Homo sapiens: one gene and its partners. Changing the gene in region 3 together with the main gene of any one other region gives a genetic interaction. Each region holds a gene or a part of one and is shown on either strand. Other genes may lie near its edges.

Region 1 (3,500 bases), on a different chromosome or scaffold from region 3:
CCAGAAGCCACCAGCATTTGTGTTTCCTTCCCACTGTTAGCGGGGGGTATGCTGTCGCCACACCAGAGCATAAAAGCCCTGGGCTCAGAGGCCAAGTTGTCGCCTTGCTCCCTCTCTCTCCAAGGCCTCTCCCACAGCACACGCTGAGAGGAAGCCCCTGGCTGGTTCCGAGCCCAGATGTTCAGGTAAGCTGCAAACTCAAGGAGTGACCTTGGGGTCACCTGCTTGCTTTCCTTTTGCTTCTGCCTATTTGGTGCACTGAAAAAACAGTGGTCCAAAATTATAATTTCTAGGGGTGATCATGGTATTGTAGTTATGGGGTTGCTTCTGCTTTTTCCCCAAAGAGTCCCTTATCTTTTAGAGAGATGTACTGAGATATTTATGGATGATGTCTGGGATTTGCTTCAAAATAATCCAGATGGGGGATGGGCTGAGGGTAGAACTGAAACGAGACTGGCTGGGGTAATGGACTCAGGGCTCAGGGGATTCAGGATACCATGCTTTCTCCTTTTGTCCACGTGTGCAATTTTCCAAAAGCGTTTCAAGGAGTAAACGCCCTTTTTCTGTTGTCTTATACTGAAGGACCCTGGAGAGGGCTGATACTCTTCTCCATCACAGAGGAGACACTCTGGGAAAACTATTGGAGGAAACCAGATGGTCTCAAGCAGTCTCTCCTGTAGCCTCTGATTCACATCTTTTAAAAGGAACTCATAGGAAAAATAACGTTGGGGAGTATAATTGTAAACTGAGGTCCTAGCAGTCCTACCAGCAGCTGATTCGCCAAACATCTCTTGGAGCAACCATTCCCAAACTTGCCTGGCCATATGGGTCCCCAGAGCCCTCACTGAAAATCAGACTCCAGGCCCCTCACCCAGCCCTGCCGACACCCTCTCTAGGAGAGGGGCTGGGACCTCTGCCTTTCACATGAACACATGGGAATGCTCCCCCTGAGGAAACATCGATGGGGGTGTGGGGTCTTCTAGTAAACAGAAATACGGGCCGGGCGTGGCATCTCACGCCTATAATCCCAGCACTTTGGGAGGCTGAGGCAGGCGGATCACCTGAGGTTGGGAGTTCAAGACCAGCCTGACCAACATGGAGAAACCCCGTCTCTACTAAAAATACAAAATTAGCCGGGTGTGGTGGTGCAGGCCGGTAATCCCAGCTACTTGGGAGGCTAAGGCAGGAGAATCGCTTGAAACCAGGAGGCAGAGGTTGCGGTGAGCTGAGATCGCACCATTGCACTCCAACCTGGGCAACAAGAGCGAAACTCCATCTCAAAAAAAAAAAAGAGAAATAGGAGCAGCACATCCCACACTGGATAAGACCATGGTGTCAAGTCATCTCATGAGGGAGAAGCCACCCAAGTCAGTGAACATCGTGTGGGCTGTGGTGGAGGAGCCCAGAGTGGAGGTGCCAGGGCAAGGGCCCTAGAGCAGCGTCTCTGGGAGAAGCTTCCTACTCCAGGCCCAGCTTTACCTAGAGACTGCATGGCCTCCTCGCTCTGCTGGACCTGCTGGGCCATCATCCTGCTGATCCCCATGAGGCTCTCAGTGATGGTACTGGATGTCTGGGCCAGGCTCTCTTTGGTGGTTTTCCTAAAAGTTCAGAGGAAGAGAAAGGGGAGGAATGTCAACAAAAGCCTCCCTGCAAGAAGGCCCCACATCCAAATGAGATCTCATGTTTTACCTATCCAATTAGTATACATATTTTAAATGATCACATTCAATGCTGGAAAGGGTGTGCTGAGACCCACGCCCCTGTGGACTGCTAGTAGGAACATAAACCAGTGCTGCCTTCTGTAAAGCAATTTGCCAATTGAAGAGCCTTGGTAATGTTCATTCCTTTGACTCAATCATCTCATCCCTGGAAATCCCTCCAAAGGAAACATCCAAAATGTGGATAAAGCCTTATGTTCTAAGACATGCCCTGGTGTATTACTTACACTACTTAAACACTAGAAATGCAAACACACACAGGGAATTGTATTAACATACAATCTACATACTATGTACTGTTAGAATTAGGCTTAAAAAGCTTTTTTTTTTTTTTTAATGAACAACTTTTGTGCTGAAACAGCAGAATATGAAATTTTATGTATGGTACAATTTTGACTTTGTAAGAAATGTAGAAATAAAAATGAGGGAGAGAATATACCAAAATGTTCATGAGTAATAAGATTTGATATTTTCGGCCGGGCATGGTGGCTCACGCCTATAATCCTAGCACTTTGGGAGGCTGGGGTGGGTGGATCACCAGAAGTCAGGAGTTCAAGACCAGCCTGGCCAACGTGGTTAAACCCCGTCTCTACTAAAAATACAAAAAATTAGCTGGGTGCAGTGGCACGCAACTGTAATCCCAGATACTTTGGAGGCTGAGGCAGGAGAATCACTTGAACCCAGGAGGCGGAGGTTGCGGTGAGCCAAGAGGGCACCACTGCACTCCAGCCTGGGCTACAAGAGTGAGACTTCATCTCAGAAAAAAAAAAAAATTCAATATTTTAATTTTGTAATTCATACTTTATTTTACCAATTTACTACAAATAAGTATGCATTTTTTTCAAACTTAAAAAAATTACTTATGTAATTAAATTAAGCACCAAGCTGAAAACAAGAGGGGGTTTCCTACACCTTGCCAATTGTTATCTATTATTATCGGAGCCCAGAAAAATAAAAGAATAGGTACCTTTGCCTTAAGAGATCTCCTCCCTGAAGAAGTTCTGCTTTCTCTAGATTGTCGATTGCAATTTTGCAGGTGAGATTAGCTTTCCTCCATGAGGCCTGATTGCTGGAATTGGAAGGTTCACGTGTGAGTGTGTCCACTCCACCAAGCCATAAGTCAGTTCAATTCACAGCACTTCCCCCCAACAAAGGCACACGGGAGAAGGCCACCAGGCACGGCCTTCAGAGCCCATCCCACCTCCTGCCACTTCCGCCTCCTGGTTCCCCAGCAACTGTTCTTGCTCAGGTCCTGATACCCCTTGACCGGACCCTGGAGGTCGCCACGGGGAGGCTCTGTTGCTGTCACTCTGCCCCCGTCAGCCCAAGGGGCTGTGAACATGGCACTCCTCTGTGCACAGCTCCACAATGGCTGGACTTCAGGGAGGCATCCAAACTTCCCAGCTGGTCACACAAGGCCCCTCTTCAGTCCAGTTGCCTCTAAGGCTGTACTGCTATGGCCTGTGTATTAATTGGTACCATCCCCGGAGAACCATGACTTACTCATCTCCAGTATCTTGAACAACCATTTCTGGCCCTTCAGCTGCTGAGTTAATATACTTTGTAGGAAATAAAAAATCGTGGCCAGGCACAGTGGTTCACACCTGTAATCATAGCACTTTAGGAGGCCGAGGTGGGGGGATCACTTGAGCCCAGGAGTTCAAGACCAGCCTGGGCAACATGGAGAAACCCCGTCTCTACTAAAAATACAAAAAATTAGCCAGGCATGGTGGTGGCGCATGCCTGTGGTTCCAGCTACCCAGGAGGCGGAGGAGCGAAGAT
Region 2 (3,500 bases), on a different chromosome or scaffold from region 3:
AAGAAAATGTTCGTCATATTTTTATCCAGCATTTCTCTGCCAAAATGTCAGAACTGAAAATCCCACATATATTCAAAACTAATTTATCATGCATGCTGCATGCTTATAAAATATTGGTCAAGGCTGGGCACAGTGGCTAATGCCTGTAATCTCAGCACTTTGGGAGGCCAAGGTGGGTGGATCATTTGAGGTCAGGAGTTTGAGACCAGCCTGGCCAACATGGTAAAACCTGTCTCCACTAAAAATACAAAAATTAGCCAGGCATGGTGGCACATGCCTGTAATCCCAGCTACTTGGGAGGCTGAGGCAGGAGAATCACTCGAACCCAGGAAGTGGAGATTGTAGTGAGCTGAGGGTGCACCACTGCAATCCAGCCTGGGTGACAGAGTGAGACTCCGTCACACACACACACACACACACACACACACACAAAGAATTAGGATCTTATATGAATCCCACTTTGTTCTCTACTCTGTCACACCCCCAATTATTTTTTATTTTTTTGAGACGAAATATTGCTCTGAAGCCCAGGCTGAAGTGTAGTGGCGCAATCTCGGCTCACTGCAACCTTTGCCTCCCGGGTTCAAGTGATTCTCCTGCCTCAGCCTCCTGAGTAGCTGGAATTACAGGCGCACGCCACCATGTCCAGCTAATTTTTGTATTTTTAGTAGAGATGGGGTTCATCATGTTGGTCAGGCTGGTCTTGAACTCCTGACCTCGTGATTCACCTGCCTCGGCCTCCCAAAGTGCTGGGATTACAGGTGTGAGCCACCGTGCCCAGCCCCATCCCTAATTATTAAAATAATTTTTAAATAATTTTTTCTTTTTTTTAATTTAACCTATGCTTCAGACATCCAATCATCAGGAATGTATCTGAGAACATGAATCCCACTGCTGCAACCAGTTCATAAGTGCTAAAGCAGGAAGTACTCTTTACTCAAGGTAAAAAGGCAATGAAAACTTTATACAGTTGCTCCTCAATTTACATTCCAATAAGCCCATTATAGATTGAAAAATACTGTAAGTCAAAAATGCATTTAATACAGCTAACTCACAGAACAACATAGCCTAGCTTAGCCTACCTTAAAAGTGCTCAGAATACTTACATTAGCCAACAGTGGCAAAATCACCTAATACAAAGCCCACTTTATAATAAGAAACTTATTTAATTCATGTAACTTACTAAATTCTGTACTAAGCATAAAAAAAAGAATGGTTGTTATGGGTACTTAAAGTATGGTTTCTACTGTGTATCGCTTTCGCACCATGGTAAAGTCAAAAAATTCTAAGTTGAGGGCTGGGCACAGTGGCTCACACCTGTAATCCCAGTACTTTGGGAGGCCGAGGCAGGAGGATCATGATGTCAAGAGATCGAAACCATCCTGGCCAACATGGTGAGACCCTGCCTCTATTAAAAATGCAAAATTAGTTGGGAGTGGTGGCGCATGCCTGTAGTCCCAGCTACTCAGGAGGCTGAGGCAGGGGAATCGCTTGAACCCGGGAGGCGGAGGTTGCAGTGAGCCGAGATCACGCCACTGCACTCCAGCCTGGTGACAGAGCGAGACTGTCTCAAATTAAAAAAAAAAAAAAAATTATAAGTTGAACCATTGTAAGCTGGGGACCGTCTATATTTAAAACAATATTCCTATTTGCTAAGACTATTTTATTCAAAATTTAACCAGAGTAAAAAGGATTAAAAAAAAATACAAGTATTCCCTTTTGTGTAGCAGCTCTCATTCCGTCCAATATTGTGTTTTCAATATAAAAAAAATGTTTAAAGCAGTATATATAACATATACTGTGATCCACGTACCCCTCCATTTCCAAGCTTACAATTCTAAAATATACAAAAAGTCATGAATAAGTCCTTTAAGGCACAGATTTAATATAAAAGAACTTTACATATACACATATATGTATACACACACACACACACACACACACATATATATATATATATATTTTTTTTTTTTTTTTTTTTGAGACAGGATCTTGCTTTGTTGCCCAGGCTGGAGTGCAGTGGTACAGTCATGCCTATAATCCCAGCTACTTAGGAGGCTGAGGTGGGAAGATCACTAAAGGTCAATTTGAGGCTGTAGCGGGCTATGATTGCACCTGAGAAAAACCACTACACTCCAGCCTAGGCAACATAGCAAGATTTTGTCTCTCTACAAAGTAGGGGGGAAAAGTAATTTGTTTTTAAGAATATATTAGTGGCATTAGAGTATTACTTTCCTGATAATATCAAGAATATTCTCTTGGACAGGTGCAGTGGCTCACATCTGTAATCCCAGCACTTTGGGAGGCCAAAGTGGGCAGATCACTTGAGGTCAGGAGTTTGAGACCAGCCTGGCCAACATGGCGAAACCCCATCTCTACAAAAAAATAAAAAAATCAAGCCAGGTGCCGTGGCTCACACCTGTAATCCCAGGACTTTGGGAGGCGGGCAGATCACAAGGTCAGGAGTTCGAGACCAGCCTGGCCAATATGGTGAAATCCCGTCTCTACTAAAAATACAAAAATTAGCCGGGCGTTGGTGGTAGGTGCCTGTAGTCCCAGCTACTTAGGAGGCTGAGGCAGAAGAATTGCTTGAACCCAGGAGGCAGAGGTTGCAGTGAGCCGAAATCACACCACTGCATTCTAGCCTGGGTGACAGAGCGAGACTCCATCTCAAACAAACAAACAAAAAATCAGACAGGCATGGTGGCGTGCAGCTGTAATCCCAACTACTTGGGAGGCTGAGGTACGAGAATCCCTTGAACCTGGGAGGCAGAGGATGCAATGAGCCAAGATTGCGCCACTGCACTCTAGCTTGGGCAACAGAGCAAGACTTTGTCTCAAAAAAAAAAAGAATATTCTCTTGATAACTGTCTCTGTTTAGTATACATGCTAAAAGAAGAGAAAGAAATCACTGCTTGTCTATCAATAGGAGCCGGTTATATAAATGATGTCAAATCCACCAATGGACTAACACGCAGCTAAGATAAAGGATGGGACAACTCCATGTGTGACTCATTCTATTTGAATTATGGCATATTTACATATTACATTTTTAAAACTTTCAATGTCAAAGAAAGCAAAGAAAGAAGAAACAAATTACAAATTTTAGGAGTAAACACTAACTCAAATGTAAATAGTATGGTACTAACTGAACATGTGTCAGCTCAATTTTGAGTCTCTACAAGTCAGTCTAAATATGCTGCGCAGACACCAAAAAGATCAGTAGTAAAATTATTTATTAGTCCTCCACCTCCAGAAATTGTTTTTGCCTTTGCATGACCTGTGCTTTATTACTGCAACATAGTCATATTTGATAGCTTAAAGAAGAGACATTACCACTTAGGAGTTGCTTCATATATTTCCTGGTCAGATTTGACCAAAGAGGATGCTATTGCCATGAGACAACAAAATAAATAAATAAATGTGTTCTATTATAATGGGAAGCTGACTCTGAAGACTATAGATACTATACAAATGTTTCAACTTCAAATAGGTTTTGC
Region 3 (3,500 bases):
CCCATGTTGGTCAGGCTGGTCTCGAACTCCTGACCTCAGGTGATCCACCTGCCTCAGCCTCCCAAAGTGCTGGGATTACAGGCATGAGCCACTACACTTGGCCTAGAAGACATGGTTTTTAAGACTTTATCCCATCCTAATCCTGTGTGCTGTAGTGGATCCACATTGCAAAGGAAGCATGCAACACCGCCTGCCAGAGCCCAGCATGGGCCGTGGGGAAAGGACCGTTGCAATCACTGCTGTTATAGGCAGGGTCCTCAGGGAAGGAGGCATCCATCTGCATCTTTACCTCTGACCTAAACTCAGAAGAGTAGTGTGGAGGTCCTGGGCTTTCCACATCAAAGGCACATGTTTAATTGACTCTGTGTTTATTTGGAGTAGCATGGTTTCCCTGAAGCCACCCATTCACTGCCTCTCCCAAGGGTGACTGCAAGGACAATCTTGTTTCAGCCACCACCACTCAACCATGATGGTCTCCAAGATAATTAATTCCATGGCCTCCCCAAATTTCCTCTGCCTCCTAGCACTGATTCTTAACCCCACCAGCACTTTCTATTTATTAGGGAAATTAAAAAAAAAAAAAAAACCCAGGCCAGGCACAGTGGCTCACACCTGTTATCCCAGTACTCTGGGAGGCCGAGGCAGGCAGATCACTTGAGCCCGGGAGTTCAAGACCAGCCTGGGCAACATAGTGACACTCCATCTCTACCAAAAAACTATTTAAAAAGCCGGGCGTGGTGGTAGGCACCTGTAGTCTCAGCTACTTGGGAGGCTGAGGTGGAAGGATCGCTTGAGCCCAGGAGGTCGAGGCTACAGTACACCATGATTGCACCACTACACTCAAGCCTGGGCAACAGAATGAGGCTTTGTCTCTAAAAAAAAATTTAGACCAGGCGTGGTGGCTCACGCCTGTAATCCCAACACTTTAGGAGGCCGAGATGGGCAGATCACTCGATGCCACAAGTTCAAGACCAGCCTCAGCAACATGGTGAAACCTAGTCTCTAAAAAAAAAAAGCCAAGTAGAGGCTCGCTCCTGTAGTCTCAGCTACTTGGGAGGCTGAGGCGGTGGAAGGGTGGCTTCCGCTCCAGAGGCAGAGATTGCAGTGAGCCAAGATCATGCCACTGCACTCCAGCCTGGGTAACAGAGTAAGACCCTGTATCAAAAAAAAAAAAAAATTAAAAATTTTTAAAAACTTACAGGTGAAACTAGGGTGCTGCTAGGGTTAAGAACTGATTCTAGGCCAGGTGCAGTGGCTCACACCTGTAACGCCTGTAATCCCAGCGCTTTAGGAGGGCGAGGCAGATGGATCACAAGGTCAGGAGTTCCAGACCAGCCTGACCAATATGGTGAAACCCCGTCTCTACTAAAAATACAAAAATTAGCCAGGGATGGTGGCATGTGCCTATAATCCCAGCTACTTAGGAGACTGAGGCAGGAGAATTGCTTGAACCTGGGAGGCAGAGGTTGCAGTGAGCCAAGATGGTGCCACTGCACTCCAGCCTGGGCAACAGAGAGAGACTCCATCTCAAAAAAAAAATGAACTGATTCTACCAGTTAACCACTGGCCCCTCAAGGTCTTGCTTCCCTTGGCCCCCATAGCTTTACTCCTCTGCTCTGCCCTCATCCTCCTTCCCTTCCTTCCTTGCCTGTCATCTCCATATTTTGAACCCCTCAGCCCCTCAGCATCCCTGTCATCCAGGGCCCTCTCCCTGGATGCCATGGGCCTATTACCTCCTTGGAAGCAAATCTCTATTCTCCAGACCCATCTCCCCGACAAGTTCCAGACTGGAATTTCCACCGCCCACAGGACAGGCAGATCCACCTGCTCCACCCATACCAAGAACGTACCCGGGCTGACTGTGCTCAGCACGTCTTCCCTTGAGCCAGCTGCTCCTCTCAGGCCAGGCACTCAGCATCATCGTCACTCACCAAGTTCTGAATGCTCTTCCCTTTTGGGCTCACTGCCACCCTCCTCGGGCATGGCACCCCTCCCAGAACCCAGTCCCCCTGCCACTAATGAAAGCTTTAGGCCATGCCAGCAAACTAGACACCTTCAAGACCAAGACGAACTGGTATAGAAGACAAGGGGATGTGGGGATTGGAGCAAACTAGAGAAAGCACACAGGAGAACACATGCCGTCTTGCAGAAGTTGCATCCACTCAGCTTCAGCCAATTGTTGCTATGCGGGAACATGGACCCAAATCTTACAATTTCCCAAGCCATGCTAGAAATCTAGGTTTTAGTGTGAAATCTCTTTGTTAAATTTAGGAGACTTAATTGTAAAACATTTTCAAAATACTGTCAGTGAGCTGCCAGTTTTCAATTTCTGCTTCTGAATAGCCTTTGGAAGACCTCTGTCACCTTTTTTTTTTTTTTTTTTTTTGAGATGGAGTTTCGCTGTTGTTGCCCAGGCTGGAGTGCAATGGTGCAATCTCAGCTCATCGCAACCTCTGCCTCCCAGGTTCAAGCGATTCTCCTGCCTCAGCCTCCCGAGTAGCTGGGATTACAGGCATGTGCCACCACATCCAGCTAACTTTGTATTTTGAGTAGAGATGGGGTTTCTCCATGTTGGTCAGGCTGGTCTCGAACTCCAGAACTCAGATGATCCTCCCCCTTGGCCTCCCAAAGTGCTGGGATTGCAGGTGTCAGCCACCATGCCCGGCCTCCTCTGTCACTTTTATAGCCATCCTCTGCTCAGAGGAAAGAGCTGACACCTCTCTGCCCAGTCTCGAGGCCCCAGTCCACACTGTCTACAACTATCTACAGCCATCTTCATACCTAATGCCAAAAGAGGCTCCCCACATTAGTTAACCCTTGGAGTGATTCACTCTAAATTTGGCCGTAGCACACTAGAGACAAAGAAACACAAACACAACCCAGAAATAAGTTTCAGGCCCATCCCTCCCCTTCCCACCCAAGTCACCACCATTGCAGGAAACTTCTTCTCCCTTGCCCTACCCCTCTCACCAGTTCCACACACCAGCCCACAGTCCAGGCCCGCTGGAGACTATCAGCATCCTGTTTCCTTGGCTCCACCAGCTCCCGGAATGCTACTACCACCGTCAAACCCCGGTTATACTTGCCTCCAATGGCATTGTACTCCAGGACCTGGAGGGCAAGGAAAGAGGTACAGGGTATCAGGGTCCATACAGCAGCTACTGTGAGTTTTCTCCTTGCTCTCTCCCATTTCCAACCACCACCTAACTTTATCCTCCCCAACCCCAACTCCTCTTCAAGGAGCCTCTGGAATTGCTACTGTCTTTACTCCTTCCCCAAATTTCTGGAGCAAAGCTAGAAGAGGTCCCAGTACCCAGGCACATTCTTTCTGCATGGTCTACCCTAGTAAATTTATTTTTTGTTTTTATTTATTTATTTATTTATTTATTTTTTTGAGATGAATTCTCTCTCTGTTACCCAGGCTGGAGTGCAGTGGCACGATCTTGGCTCACTGCAACCTCTGTCTCCGGGTTCATGAAATTCTCCTGGCTCAGCCTCTC
Region 4 (3,500 bases), on a different chromosome or scaffold from region 3:
GCTAGTTTTTTTGGTAAAATTAGCCCCAGTACAGACGGGGTTTCTCCATGTTGCCCAGGCTGGTCTCGAATTCGTGAGCTCAAAGCAATCTGCCTGCCTCAGCCTCCCAAACTGCTGGGATTACAGGCATGAGCCACTGTGCCCAGCCTGGAAAAAAAATCCACTTCTAATCTAGCAAATTTTGTGTTCTTGTTTACTATTTTAGCATTAATAACACCAAGTGACTAACATTCTCCTCATGAGCGCTATGCTAGGAATAAAAGCTTGCCACGGTGGAATTATCTAAACTAGAAGAAATCAATACCATGGATCCCAACAAAAATCAACAAAAGGGACCACATGTTCATTTTATCTGATATATTTCTGGAAAAAAATGTTTGCCATAGCAAAATGGAGACGGGGAGCCAAGCAGCAAAATACATCCGTAGTGAGGTACAGAAAACAGTATCCACTAGAAATCTTTTCAGGAAGGGTGCCATTTTGGGTTGGAGAAACTCCTTGAAAGTTAATTTGGGGGAGAAGGAGAGTCCTTGAGGGACCAGGGTAAGGTCAGAACGTTTCCTGGGAGAAAGGGGGAACATTTCTCTGGCTAATAAGGGCACAGTGCCGGACAGGGTGAAGAAGAAAAAGTCAGTCAAGAGTGGTACATTTCAGAGCATGAAAGGCCTCACACTGCATAAAATAGACTACACCTTAAGACTTCCAATTTTCAGTAAGACTCTTAGGCCCATATAAAATTCAGGAGCCTGTGGATTTTTTGGTGTGGAAACCACTGAAGAGGCAGATTGTACATCTAAATTGCAAGGGCGAGACTTAAGTATGAATTGGGAATTTAGAGTGTAGCAAATTAGTCAGACATTAGATAATAAGTAAGCAAAGTTTATGAACAATTCACCAAGAAATACAAATGGCTCTTTAACATATGAAAATATAACTGTGCAAGGAAAAAAAACATGCAAATTAGTTTCCAAGAGATACTTTCCATTTCTTGCATTGGCAAAGAACAAAAATTTCACTGACATAATTGTGAGGACAAATGCATTCACTAGTGGGAATTCATAAAACTTCCATTGAGAGCAGTTTGGCAATAACTACCAAAATTAAAAATGCACATAATCTTTAACTGAATTATTTCAATTCTAGTAATTTATTCTATAGGCATAGATGTGGGAAATGACTTTACATACAAAGGTATTCAATGCAGCATTATTTGTAATAACCAATGCCTAAAACCAACCTAGATAGAGGTTAAATAAATTATAAGTCCATATTATATGGCGCATGAAAAAGAAAGAGGCAACTATTTACATATTAATATTGAATAATTGCCAAGATATATTATTAACAGATAAAGTGCAGAAAATGCATATAGTATCTGTATTAATAAAAAGGCAAAAATAAAGAGGAATATTATATACATAATTGCTTGTATACTTAGAAAATATTTCTGGAAGGATATTCAAAATGCTAAAAGTGGTTCTAAAGAGGAGAACTGGGTAGCGGGGGGACAGGGAAGAGAAGACTTTTTACTCTATACCTTTAATACATTTTGAATTTTGTACTATATGGATGTATTACCTACTCCAATAATAGCGACTAAGAAAGTGAAAAGCACAACATACCAAGAATTGTGATAAATGCTAAGAAGGAGAAATATAGAACAGTTAGAACAAACAATGGGGAGCCAATCTAGACTTGTTTGGACAGGGAAATTTTTCCTGGGTAAGAGATGTTTAAAATGAGACCTAAAGGGTAAGGCATTAGCTTAGGGAAAGGGGATGAAGACATGTGCAGGCCAGGAAAGAATTCTAAGGCAAAGGAAGAACTTGTGCAAAGGCCCTGAGGATGGAAGAATCTCAGCCAGTTTGCAGCACAGAATGAAGACCAGTGTGAAAAGAGAAAAAGGTAACAGGGTTGGTTGCAATAGGAGAAGAGGTAGGAGTGCAGATCCACAAAGGCCATATGAGGAATTTTATTTTAAGGGCATTGGGAAGGCACTAGAGAATTTTGAGCAAGGAATGGCATGGTCAGAATGAACACTTAATAAACTCATGTTAGCTCATGAGTAGAGACTGAATTGGGAGGGGGACAAAAATTGATAATCTAGGGTAAACTAAAGGATGCTGCAAATGAGATGATGAAACACTTCACTTGGACTAGTGTGATGGCAAAGGAGATGGAGAAAAAGTAAATGGGTTCTCAAGTTTAGAGGTGGAAAAACCTCCAATACACATGATTGGATATGGGGGAATGAGGGAAAGGGAAATGGATGTTAAAGGAAGATTGCCAGGTTTCTTACTTTGAAAGCTGCTGGATGAGTGGTACAGCCAATTACTGAAATGGGAAGACTTAAGGACAAAGATGTTTGTAGAAAGCTCATGAGGCTGTTTCCCAATATGTGAAATCTCCCTGAAAGGGGTCCTGTGAGGAGCAAATGACATTCTTTATTCAATAACTAGAAGCCATTGCTATAATGTTTCAAAATCTCTCCTTTGACCTCAGATCTTGTGAGGAAGATAGAACACTTTCTGTACCAGGGCCTTTTTCAATAAGAAAGGACATTGGTTTCTCAAATTGCAATCACTAAACCTAATGTACTTTAATTATATACATAATTAGAACAATCTCTTTTTAAAAAAACATAATAGGTTGGATACTATGGTTCACACCTGTAATCCCAACACTTTGAGATGCTGAGGCAGGAGGATTGCTTGAGCCCAGGAGTTCAATACCAGCCTGAGCAACATAGTGAGACCCGTCTCTACAAAAAATTTTAAAATGAGCCTGGCATGATGGCATGTGTCTGTAGTCCTAGCTACTTGGGAGACTGAGGAGAGAGGCTCTCCTGAGCCCAGGAGCTCAAGGTTGCAGTGAGCTATGATTGCACCACTGAACTCCAGCCTGGGTGACAGAGTGAGATCCACTGTAAAACAAACAAACAAGAAGTATGTTCACAGGAAAATCCCAGAAATCACATAGAACATGTTTCTTGTGTCACAGATGGATCTTCATTTCCCTTAGCAAATCTCCTCAAATGTGACCCTGCTTATCAAGATTATTCAAATCATATAGCTGTGCTGGGCATACAAAAAAAATGGCATTTATCTATTTTTATGGTGGGGGCTGAGGACATAGAAGAGGAATCAGGCATCGGTAACTTTTCAACACCCCCAATATATGTATAAACAAGGAGCTACAGTTGAGTTTTTACATTTTTAATGTTTTATCATTTGTACTGACAAGGTCCATAGCCAGCTTTGTTCTGATGCCACCTGCTGGACAAGTCTGTAACATCTTATTTCTCTTTGGAAGTGTCCAGTCCTCCCAAAACCTATACCACAAACGCTTGAGAGTCCAGCCAACACTGGGAAATATCACTTCAAAATAATATGAAGCTTCACTGGACTTCATGGAGGATTTTCAGTATGCCTATTCTTGATGCTACAGATATACTCAATAGCAATCAATGGTGAATGTGGACAAAGGCATAATACTGCATT
Region 5 (3,500 bases), on a different chromosome or scaffold from region 3:
ATTACCTCTGGCCTTTTCATGACTACTGTCAACTTCTTTACCATCCTTGTCATCTGATTTATTTTCGTCCTTCTTTTTTATGTCTTTACTACTATGCTTTAAGCTTCTGCTTTTGTGGCCATCTGACAACTTTCTCTCAAGCCTGGTGGAAGTGGAGTCTTTATCACTCTTATATTTCTCCTTTGCTAATGGTAACTTGGCTCTATGACTAGAATCCTTCTGTGTACTATGTGCTGAAGAAGAAGCAGTCTCTAATACAGGTTCAACACCAGTTTCTTCAAAAGGTTTGTCTTCAACTTTAGACTTACGCTGTTTTTCTGAGTCATTTTCTTCTGTGTTCTTCTCCTTGTCTGGTTTTGGAGTGGTTGCCTGTTTTGTGGCACCTTCTTGTAATTCTGTTTCTACAACTTTTACCTGTTTGCCTTGAGTTTTTGATTTAGACTTCAACACAAGTTTCTCTTCTAACAAGCTCTTTGTTCGTCGTTTCTCCTTGTGAACAACCTCTTCTGGTTTCAAATTACTATCCATGTTAGTGGAGTCCATATCACACTTATCTTCCGAATAACTTTCACTTCTTCTCTGTAATGTGATACCATGTTGCTTGGAACCCAGAGAATCTTTCTGAATTTTAGAATCACTTGACCTTCTTGATTTGTGCTCTGCCTTAGTTTTTTCAGCTGACAAGCGTCTCTCTTTTTTGTTGTTTTCTTTACGAACATTCTCATCTGTTTTTATAATATATTCAGAAACTGGCTTTCCATCTTTGCCTAATACTGATAATTTCCTTTCATTCCTATGTTTACTTTTTCGTTCGGTTTTATCATCTGAAGAAAGCTTTGTTTGTTGACTTTGCTTTTGAATATTTTCCTCTACTTTTAAACCTTTCTCAGAAGAGTGAAGCTCAGTCTCATCACCTGTTTTATGCATACAATCACCTTTATATTTATGTTTCACAGACAATTTGTCTTCCGATGGAGTTTTCTCTCTTTCAGGCTTCTCCTTGGAGGATTTCACCTCTTTCTTAAGTAGGCTTTTCAAATGTGGTGTTTCAGAATCATCTTTCTTTAGATGCTTTTCGTTTTTAAGTGTGCTTTTCTGTTTCTGGGGCTCTTCGGTGCAAATTTCTGAGCGTTCTACTTGCCTTTTTACATCTCTTGTGTCAGTCTCTTCCTGTACCCCCTCCATGATAACAGGGGTAGATGTCCGTCTTTTATGTTCTCTTTCTAATTTGGATTCATTTTTGTTTTCGTCAACTACATGCAAAGACTCTGAAAGTCTCCGGGCAGGTTTACTTGGTTCACTTTTTGCATGAACATGCTTCAGCTCCTTTGAAGAAGAAATTTTTTCCTTTTCACAATGCTGAAAGAAAACAAAGGTTAAAATATGAGAAATACCAAAATCAATTTTTAGATTAAAACATAACATTTGGGTGGATTTAATATGTTGAGTGCTGTCACATATGTAACATCTCACTTAATTCTTACAAACAGCCTGTGTAGGTGTCAAAAACTCACCTGATTTTAAAAAATAAGTATTATTAACTTGATTTTAAGAAGCTAAATTCTTCAAAGAACTAACAGGAGTTTGCAACAACCATATTTTACAATAAAAAAACTAATTCTAAACAATATGAACAATTTTATGAGATTATTTCTCATAGAGATTTATCACAAAATAAAGTTAAATACTTAAAAATATGCCATTAAAACATCAGGAAATTGTAGCTCAGCATGATTCTATAACTTGACACTCAGACCACAAGTAGGTGTGTTAGGAATGAGTTTAGATTATTTCATTCCGAGTCTAGTACTCCTTCCAGTATATCACAGGCACTGATTTGTCTATGAATTCTTCAATTCTGAATCACTAGAACTCACTAATGCCCAGTACTCAATAATAAATATGAGCTGAATAAATGACAGTCAAATGTCCTTTTCAGTCAAAAACATAATACATGAAGGCAATTTAAAATTGAAATATACTGAAATATAGATTTCCTATATTTTAATTTAAAAAGCTGAATTATGTATGGAAACCTCATGAATTTAGGCTACTTGTACAATATTCTACACATGAAGCTTCAAATGTACACAATAACGCACAGTAACCATATCATATATAACATATGTATATGTTTATGTATTCAAAAAAAGATACGGAGAGACAAGAGCATCTAAACCTTCCTTCTGGCCCTGTGGTTTGGCACTAAGTAGGCGATTAATATTAATGAGTGGAGGTTGACTAAATCCACTTCAATAATACTCACTGACTACTAGCTATAATTATTCTTATGCAAATAATGGGCCAAAGTTCAGACGGACCTTTGTGCCTCTAGGTCAGTTTAACACTTCATCTCCTTAAATGTCAACACAAAGATTAATGTACTTCTACTAATAACAGGGTCCAGGACATAACAAGACCTTATTAAATAGCTTAAAATAAAATTCCTCAAAGAACTAACAGGAGTTTGCATCAACTTCACAATAAAAAACTAATTCTAAGCAATGTGAATACTATTTTATGAGATAATTTCTTATAGAGAATTATCATAAAAGAAAGTTAAATATTTAAAAATATGTCATTAAGCCATCACTATATACTTCTAAATACGCCTTTAATTTCTGAGTAAATAAATTAAATTTATGTTTGCTGATGATGAACAAATAATCACTAACATTGCTTTTTCCCTCTGGAAATATTAAGATAGTTTAGCTACAGAACTACAGATAATGTGGTTTTTGTAAAAAAGAATTTTAAAACAGTGAAAGCAAAAGTTTGTCCCACGAAAATAATCCTGAAAGGGGGAAGAAAACATTGTACGTTACTTTTACTGTTTAAAATGATCAAATCTTGGAAACAACCTAAGCGCTAAAATATAAGGACATGCTTAAATAAATTATGGTATGTACATTATATGTAACACTAGACAATCATTAAATAATTAGGATGCCTAGAAGGTAACATGAAATGAGTAAAATGTTAAAAACAGTTTGCCAGATTACTTGTACTCTAAAAAATTATGTGGACCCGTGGATAAGGAATGAGAGGGAATAAAAAGGATAATTTGTTATAGTGGAGGGATTTTAGATTTTAATTTTAGCCTCCCTTTTTCTTTTTTTGTCATTACTGGCATTTTTGTTATTGCAATTATAAGAAATGGGAAAAGAGAAGAAGAGTAGCTATTACCTAGATAAACGACAAATATATAAATCAACTCAACAAAATGGGCAATTTGGGACATAACAAAATGGGGTTTCAAAAATGCTGAATGTAAGTTGACTTTTTATTTGACTTGAAAAAAGTCAAATTACATTCTAAGTTTTACTCCAAAGGAATAAACAGCCTATATCTAACAAAACAGCATTTGAAATGAGGTTTTATTAAGGCATACCTCACTTGTTTTAAGGGTTTCTTTGGAATCTTCTTCATATTGCTGTTTCTTTTTGGAGTTCTCTTCAACATTCCTAAGGGGGAAAGAGTCAAATATAAAGCATGAATCA
Region 6 (3,500 bases), on a different chromosome or scaffold from region 3:
TTTGAAGTACCTACTGAATATGCTAATGTCTTGCTAAACACTGTGAGGGCAGTAATGGAGAAGGCAGCTCTATCTTCAAAGAACTTAAAATTGTTAGGGATTTAGGAACAATCCATATGAAAATTATTAGATAGAAGAGAATAGTAGATGAGTTTTTTTCATCTGCTATCTTGAGCTATTTTTCCTAATGGGAGAGTATCATTCCTCAAGGAGATTATGGTTAAAAAAATAAACATTGAGAACCATTGCAGTAAATGACAAAGTAGCTAACTGAGTTGTAAACTGTTTTGGAATTTAGTGTAGTATTTTCAAAACTTTGGATTGTAACTCACAGTAAAAAACAAAACATTTTACAGACATGTGTATATATGTGGATACACATAAAATGATACAAAAGTTTACGAAATAATGTCTTTGAAAGCATCCATTTGCACTCTAATCTTTCTTTTATTCCAGATTCTTTCCCTATCCCTGCCTCCCTCCCTCCCTTCCTTCCTCCCTTTCTTCCTCCCTCCCTTCCTTCCCTCCCTCCTTGCTTCCTTCCTTCCTTTCTCCCTCCCTTCTTTCCTGCCCTCCTCCCTCCCTCCCCTCCCTCTCCCCCTCCCTCCGTCCCTTCCTCCTTCCTTCCTTCCTTCCTTCCTATTCCATTCACAGCCTGCTAATATTATTTTACAACTCTGTGGATACCGTGCTGTTCACCGGGATTGCAGTGATGAGTAGGCAGACATGGTTCCAGCTTCCAAAGATCCTACAATCAATTGAGAAAGATAGACAAATAAAGAAGTAATATGATAAAATATGATAAATACTCTGATAGGTAAAGTATAGGCAGTAGAGGCCATTCATTCAGTTATTCATAAAGCATTTATTCAGCACCTCTTTGTGCTAGGAACCGTTGTAGGCATTAGAGATTCTGCAGTGAACAAAGCTAAATTACATTTCTCATTGAGTTGACTTCTTGGTGTGGGTGGGAGTGGTAAGTGTATATAAGAAATAAGAAGTAAACATAATAATCAGTTAATTTCAGATACTGATTAATGAGATGATAGTAAAACAGGATCATGTGATAAAGATGAATGAGAAAATAACCTTGGATTGGGTAGCCAGGAAAGGCTTCTCTGAGAAGCCAACATTTGAGCTGAACCCTAAATAGTATTAAGAGCTAGTAATGTGAGATCTGTGGCCTGAACATTCTCGGCAGAGGGAATTAGAAAGTTTGTATCCTGTGGAAAAGGCACGCATCCTTGGTCTTACAGGATTAGGGAAGTCTTCCTGAAGAGAGAAGAATGAAAGACAGTTTATAGCCAAGAGGAAATCACACTAGTATGCTAGAGGATTTTTTAATTTTATTTTTTATTTTTTGAGACGGAGTCTTGCTCTGTTGCCCAGGCTGGAGTGCAGTGGTGTGATCTTGGCTTACTGCAACCTCTGCTTCCCAGGTTCAGGCAATTCTGCCTCAGCCTCCCGAGTAGCTGGGATTACAGCATACCCAGCTAATTTTTTTTTTTTTTTTTTTGTATTTTTAGTAGAGATGGGGTTTCACCATATTGGCTAGACTGGTCTCGAACTCCTGACCTCAGGTGATCCGCCTGCTTTGGCCTCCCAAAGTGCTAGGAATACAGGCTGAGCCACCATGCCCTGCTGGCTAGAGGATTTTAAAAGAGGAAAAGGTCAGTGTGAGTTAAAAGTGGTTGAGGCAGGTTTTATGGAGGTGTGAGATTTGGAGGGTGAGTAGGAGTTAGATGTATGGAAAGGTGGAAGAGGAACCTTTAGGCAGAGTAAGGTATAAGCAATGATGTGGATATGGGAATGGGAAGCCCTCTTGGGACTTATATTTCACAGGGAACAGTTGAAGAGATCTGGGGCCAAACTAAGAAAGGCTTTGCTTGAGAGAAGAGGATAATGTAGGCAGTGAGAAGCAGGGATTAGTGATGTGATAAAATCAACATCTGGCTTGAAAAACTAACCAAGTGGAATGACAGAATAGAGAACTGTGTGTCATTGGACCTTTAGATCTTTAGTCTGCCTCCTATTTTCAAGTGTGAGTTAAGATAATTACCAATGCACTTTTTTTTTTTTGTCAGTTTCCTGATTGACTTCAGAACTTCTGGCAGTTGTAGAATTTTCTTTTTGCTAAGTTGCTTTCCCCCCCCACTGCATGTATAATTGCAGAACGCTAATGTTGCTTTGCAGTTACCTGCCTGCTTAGTTATCCAATTGCTAGAGCACTGAGGTTTCAGTCCCAGTGCCAGCCAGTTAATTTACCCCATTTCAGAGTTAAATGCTGCAGATGTGAGCCTGATGAGAAAATTATCACAATGGTGATCAGAAAGAGAGGGGCTAACATATCAGTGTAGAAGAAAAAGCAACTTGTTCTAGTGATAATGGGTTAATAGTGATGTCTTATTGTTCATTTATTCTTCATCAAATGTTTGAGAACTTGCCTTGTTCTAGGCACTAAATTTGAGAATACAGATGTGAATCAGAGGGCCAAATAAATGTAAACATATTTAGCATGTTTCTTATTGGTTACTTCAGGTTGAGTATCCCTTATTCAAAATGCTTGGGCCCAGAAGTGTTTCGGATTTTGGATTTGTTTCAGATTTTGGAATATTCGCATTATACTTACTGGTTGGGCATCCCTAATCAGAAAATCCAAAATCTGAAATGGTCCAAGGAACATTTTCTTTGAACATTGTGTTGGCATTGAAAAAGTTTTGGATTTTGGAGTGTTTTGGATTTTGGAATTTTGGATTAAGGATACTCAGCCTATAGTTACAATGGATTGTAGGTGCACAAAAGAGACAAAAACTAAATCAGTGTGAGACACTAACATTTATTGAGTGCCTATTGTGTATCACATACTGTGATTTTTTTTTCCCCCATAGGAGCAGCTTTATTTTATAACGAGGTATAGTTGTAACTATGCCAAAGTTGTTACAACAAAAGCACTTTTTACCTTATCTAATTTTATTGTCACAGTAAACTGATTAGGCAAGTAAAATAGATATAATAATTAACCCCTTTCTACAAATGAAGATCTGTGAAATGACTGATTGTGTTTTGTGGCTTGTCTAAGGTTAAGGCTGTTTGGTGGTTGGATATATTCACTATTCCTGGTAAGAATAAATAAAGGTCGGATGAGCTACTATTTGAGGTTAAACTAAGAGTAGTAAGACTTTTTTGTCTAGAAGGACAAAGATATAATCTAAGTCCAAAATCATGAAAAATATTAGGTAAAATATATAGTATGTCAGATGGGGTAAGTGCAATGGAGAAAAAGCACAGAAGGGGAAGGGGGATAAGAAGAGCAAGGGTCCTATTTGGGGCATTGCAATTTAAAATGGAATCATCAGGGAAAGCCACATTGAGAAGGTGATGACATTGAGCAAAAGACCTAAAGGAGATATATAGCAAGAAGGCCAAGTTGTCAAGGTACAATAGGAAGGAAGGTGGGAGAGTTGGAGGTGAAATTGGGAAGTGGGTGCACAGGACAAGTG
Region 7 (3,500 bases), on a different chromosome or scaffold from region 3:
GGTGCATATGTGTAGTCCCAACTACTGGGGAGGTTGAGGTGGGAGGATTGGTTGAGCCCAGGAAGTCCAGGCTGCAGTGAGCTATGATGGTACCACTGCACTCCAGCCTGGGCAACAGCGTGAGATCCCCTCTCAAAAAAAAAATTATGAAAATTTTATCTGATTGCTGCTGTTCTTTCTTTCTTTCTTTTTTAAAATTATGGTCAGGTACTTACAATTTCATCAGAAATTCCTAAAAGAATTCGAAGTGCCTTAAAAAATGCAGAAGAATCAAAGCAATTTCTTAATCAGTTTCTGGAGCAGGAAACTCATCTCTTCAGCGCCATTAACAGCCATTTGCTGACTGCGCAACCTTGGATGGACGATCTTGGAACCATGATTAGCCAGATTGAAGAGATCGAACGTCATCTTGCTTACCTTAAATGGATTTCACAAATTGAAGAACTAAGGTAAAATGGGCCTCTTTGTTCTCACAATTACTATTTTCCTTTGAGGCTTCTGTCTTAGAGAGTACATGTGTGCCATTAAATAATTGAGTTAATTAAAGATTATAATAATATAATTTTACCAGTTGTTGTGAAAATAGCATTATGATAATGATTCTTTTCCTTTATTGTGAGTGAACATAAGCTTTTCAGGGAGCTTAATTAGCATTTGAAAGAAGGTAATGTAAGTACGTTAAACTTTTAAGTTTTTTTTTTTTGAGATGGAGTCTCGCTCTGTCGCCCAGCTGGAGTGCAGTGGTGCCATCTCGGCTCACTGCAAGCTACACCTCCCGGGTTCATGCCATTCTCCTGCCTCAGCCTCCCGAGTAGCTGGGACTACAGGCGCCCGCCACCATGCCTGGCTAATTTTTTTTTTTGGTATTTTTAGTAGAGACGGGGTTTCACCATGTTAGCCAGGATGGTCTCGATCTCTTGACCTCACTGTCCGCCAGCCTCGGCCGCTGGAAGTGCTGGGATTACAGGCATGAGCTACCGCGTCCGGCCAAACTTTTAAGTCTTACAGTTGGATTATGAACACATGATAAAAACTATTCTTTGTAATGCCAAATTAATAAAACACAAAGTTTGGTAATAGTTATTCTTATTTAATTTTTAGAACTGGTCAGTTAATGAAATGGATTGCTTTTGTATAATTTGAATATTTTTCAGTGGGAATCATAAGAGCTACACAGTATTCTTGGATGAATAACAAGAGTTCTGCTACCTCTGGGTAGGAAAAACAAAAAAGGAAGTAAGGCTTGACCTTAGTTCTTTTTGAGTTGAATACCTATCACTGGTAGTTAATTGTATCTAGCTTTGCCTTTCAGACAACCCAAAGTAACATTTCCACCTAGATTAGTAGATGATAAGGTCCCCACTATCCTTGCATTGTTTTAACTAGTACTTGCTGCAGAGCTGTCAGCAACCATTAATTTTGCCTGGAAAACCTGAGGGAGAAAAGTCTTCTGGGAGTCTTAATGTCCTGTTTCAAATGTATCATAGTTAATAAACCTGATATTACTTTTGTTATGGATATGTTTTATGTATTTCTTTTTCTTGCATATATTTCCCAAAATTTTAAAGAATTTTACATATCAATATAATATAGAAATCTTTGTTTTTAGGCCAGGTGCAGTGGCTCACACCTGTAATCCCAGCACTTTGGGAGGCCGAGGCGGGCAGATCACGAGGTCAGGAGTTTGAGACCAGCCTGACCAACATGGTGAAACCCCGTCTCTACTAAAAATACAAAAAAAAAAAAGAAATTAGCCAGGCATGGTGGCGCGTGCCTGTAATCCCAGCTACTTGGGAGGCTGAGGCAGGGGAATTGCTTGGACTCGGGAGGCAGAGGTTGCAGTGAGCTGAGGTTGTGCCATTGCACTGCAGCCTAGGCAGCAAGAGCGAAACTCCGTCTCAAAAAAAAAACAAAAAAAACAAAAAAACTTTGTTTTGCATGTATGAGGAGTTTTACATATAAAGTGGTTTAGAACATCTCATTCTTGTTTAGATAAATTATTTGCAGTGAAGGAATTTTAAACCTTGCTTTATTTTACTGCATTTCTCCTTGTCCCTCAGAAAGGAAATATCAGTAAGGGGCAATGTTAATAACTTTATTAAGTAAAATACGTTATTTGAAAACCTCACTCTTGTAGTAGCCAAAGTAATAGATTAACTAAATTAGGTCCATGGTTATTGATAAACTTTTCTTTTTTCTTCTTTTTTTTAACATTTATTTTATTTATTTTAATTTTCTTTTTATTTTTTTTTGAGTTGGAATCTTCCTCTGTTGCCCAGGCTGGAGTGCAGTGGCACAATCTCAGCTCACTGCAACCTCCACCTCCCGGGTTCAAGCGATTCTCCTGCCTTGGCCTCCCGAGTAGCTAGGACTACAGGTGTATGCCACCACGCCCAGCTAATTTTTGTATTTTTAGTAGAGATAGGGTTTCACTATGTTGGCTAGGCTGGTCTTGAACTCCTGACCTCAAGTCATCTGCCTGCCTTGGCCTCCCAAAGTGCTGGGATTACAGGTGTGAGCCACTGCACCTGGCCTTGATAAACTCTTCAGATATCTGAATTGTTTATAAGGGAAATATGCCGAGGGATTTATATTAGAAATAGGGATCAAATTCATAAGCAGGTAGAGCACAGTTATTTTTCTGTCTTTAATAATGTGTTATTTCCCTGAGGTCTTTTATGATAATCTCTCCATTTCCAGCTTTCCTTTAGAGCTTCTGGGATTTTCTTCATCTCTAAATTTTTTTATAATGGCCTATTTTTATTCTGATGTACATTGTCTTTTTTTCAAGTAGTTTCTTCTTGCTAGAATTAGCATCCTTACATTAGCTCTGTTTCTTGGATACTATAGTATAGCACTATCACTCTGAGTGAACCTTGTTTCTCTAGCTTTTCCTATGTTGTAAATGTCATTCATACTTTAGTGTTGTGAGGAAATCTATTTCATTCCTTCCTTAAAAGCAGTACTCCTGCCGGGCATGGTGGCTCATGCCGTAGTCCTAGCACTTTGAGAGGCTGAGGTGGGCAGATCGCTTGAGCTCTGAATTCTGTGACCAGTCTGGGCAACATGGCAAAACCCCATCTCTGTTTAAAAAAAAAAAAATCAGCCAGGCTTGGTGGTGAGCACCCATAGTCCCAGCTACTCGGGAGGCTGAGGTAGGAGGATCGCTTGAGCCCCGAGAGGTTAAGATTGCAATGAGCCGTGATTGTACCACTGCACTGCAGCCTAGGTGACAGAGTGAGACTCTTTTAAAAAAAAAAAAAAGGCAGTACTCATATTCTGTTTGTACATTTGAAATTCTTCTGTAATATTTGTATATATATATATATATTTTTTTTTTTTTGAGATGGAGTCTTACTCTGTTGCTGAGGCTGGAGTGCAGCGGCACCCTGTCAGCTCACTGCAACCTCTGTCTTCTGGGTTCAAGCAATTCTCCTGCCTCAGCCTCCTGAGTAGCTGGGATTACAGGTGCCCATGACCACGCCTGGCTAGTTTTTATA

What was found.
Region 1: changes in FDPS (region 3) and BNIP1 together harm fitness more than expected from each alone (negative genetic interaction), as found in Homo sapiens cells (one large-scale study listed by BioGRID).
Region 2: changes in FDPS (region 3) and EMC7 together harm fitness more than expected from each alone (negative genetic interaction), as found in Homo sapiens cells (one large-scale study listed by BioGRID).
Region 4: changes in FDPS (region 3) and ARIH1 together harm fitness more than expected from each alone (negative genetic interaction), as found in Homo sapiens cells (one large-scale study listed by BioGRID).
Region 5: changes in FDPS (region 3) and BOD1L1 together harm fitness more than expected from each alone (negative genetic interaction), as found in Homo sapiens cells (one large-scale study listed by BioGRID).
Region 6: changes in FDPS (region 3) and RRM1 together harm fitness more than expected from each alone (negative genetic interaction), as found in Homo sapiens cells (one large-scale study listed by BioGRID).
Region 7: changes in FDPS (region 3) and RINT1 together harm fitness more than expected from each alone (negative genetic interaction), as found in Homo sapiens cells (one large-scale study listed by BioGRID).

What each region holds. Positions count from the first base shown.
Region 1 is NC_000005.10:173,158,031-173,161,530, reverse strand, and holds part of BNIP1 (vesicle transport protein SEC20), read right to left. Parts: intron 2,788-3,500; coding exon 2,686-2,787; intron 1,599-2,685; coding exon 1,480-1,598; intron 1-1,479. UniProt on the Homo sapiens protein: As part of a SNARE complex may be involved in endoplasmic reticulum membranes fusion and be required for the maintenance of endoplasmic reticulum organization. Also plays a role in apoptosis.
Region 2 is NC_000015.10:34,091,863-34,095,362, forward strand, and holds part of EMC7 (endoplasmic reticulum membrane protein complex subunit 7 precursor), read right to left. Parts: intron 1-3,500. UniProt on the Homo sapiens protein: Part of the endoplasmic reticulum membrane protein complex (EMC) that enables the energy-independent insertion into endoplasmic reticulum membranes of newly synthesized membrane proteins.
Region 3 is NC_000001.11:155,311,866-155,315,365, reverse strand, and holds part of FDPS (farnesyl pyrophosphate synthase), read right to left. Parts: intron 3,112-3,500; coding exon 2,971-3,111; intron 1-2,970. UniProt on the Homo sapiens protein: Key enzyme in isoprenoid biosynthesis which catalyzes the formation of farnesyl diphosphate (FPP), a precursor for several classes of essential metabolites including sterols, dolichols, carotenoids, and ubiquinones.
Region 4 is NC_000015.10:72,599,830-72,603,329, reverse strand, and holds the end of ARIH1 (E3 ubiquitin-protein ligase ARIH1), read right to left. Parts: 3' UTR 343-3,500; downstream 1-342. UniProt on the Homo sapiens protein: E3 ubiquitin-protein ligase, which catalyzes ubiquitination of target proteins together with ubiquitin-conjugating enzyme E2 UBE2L3.
Region 5 is NC_000004.12:13,603,726-13,607,225, forward strand, and holds part of BOD1L1 (biorientation of chromosomes in cell division protein 1-like 1), read right to left. Parts: intron 3,465-3,500; coding exon 3,392-3,464; intron 1,360-3,391; coding exon 1-1,359. UniProt on the Homo sapiens protein: Component of the fork protection machinery required to protect stalled/damaged replication forks from uncontrolled DNA2-dependent resection.
Region 6 is NC_000011.10:4,097,799-4,101,298, forward strand, and holds part of RRM1 (ribonucleoside-diphosphate reductase large subunit), read left to right. Parts: intron 1-3,500. UniProt on the Homo sapiens protein: Provides the precursors necessary for DNA synthesis. Catalyzes the biosynthesis of deoxyribonucleotides from the corresponding ribonucleotides.
Region 7 is NC_000007.14:105,542,201-105,545,700, forward strand, and holds part of RINT1 (RAD50-interacting protein 1), read left to right. Parts: intron 1-207; coding exon 208-449; intron 450-3,500. UniProt on the Homo sapiens protein: Involved in regulation of membrane traffic between the Golgi and the endoplasmic reticulum (ER); the function is proposed to depend on its association in the NRZ complex which is believed to play a role in SNARE assembly at the ER.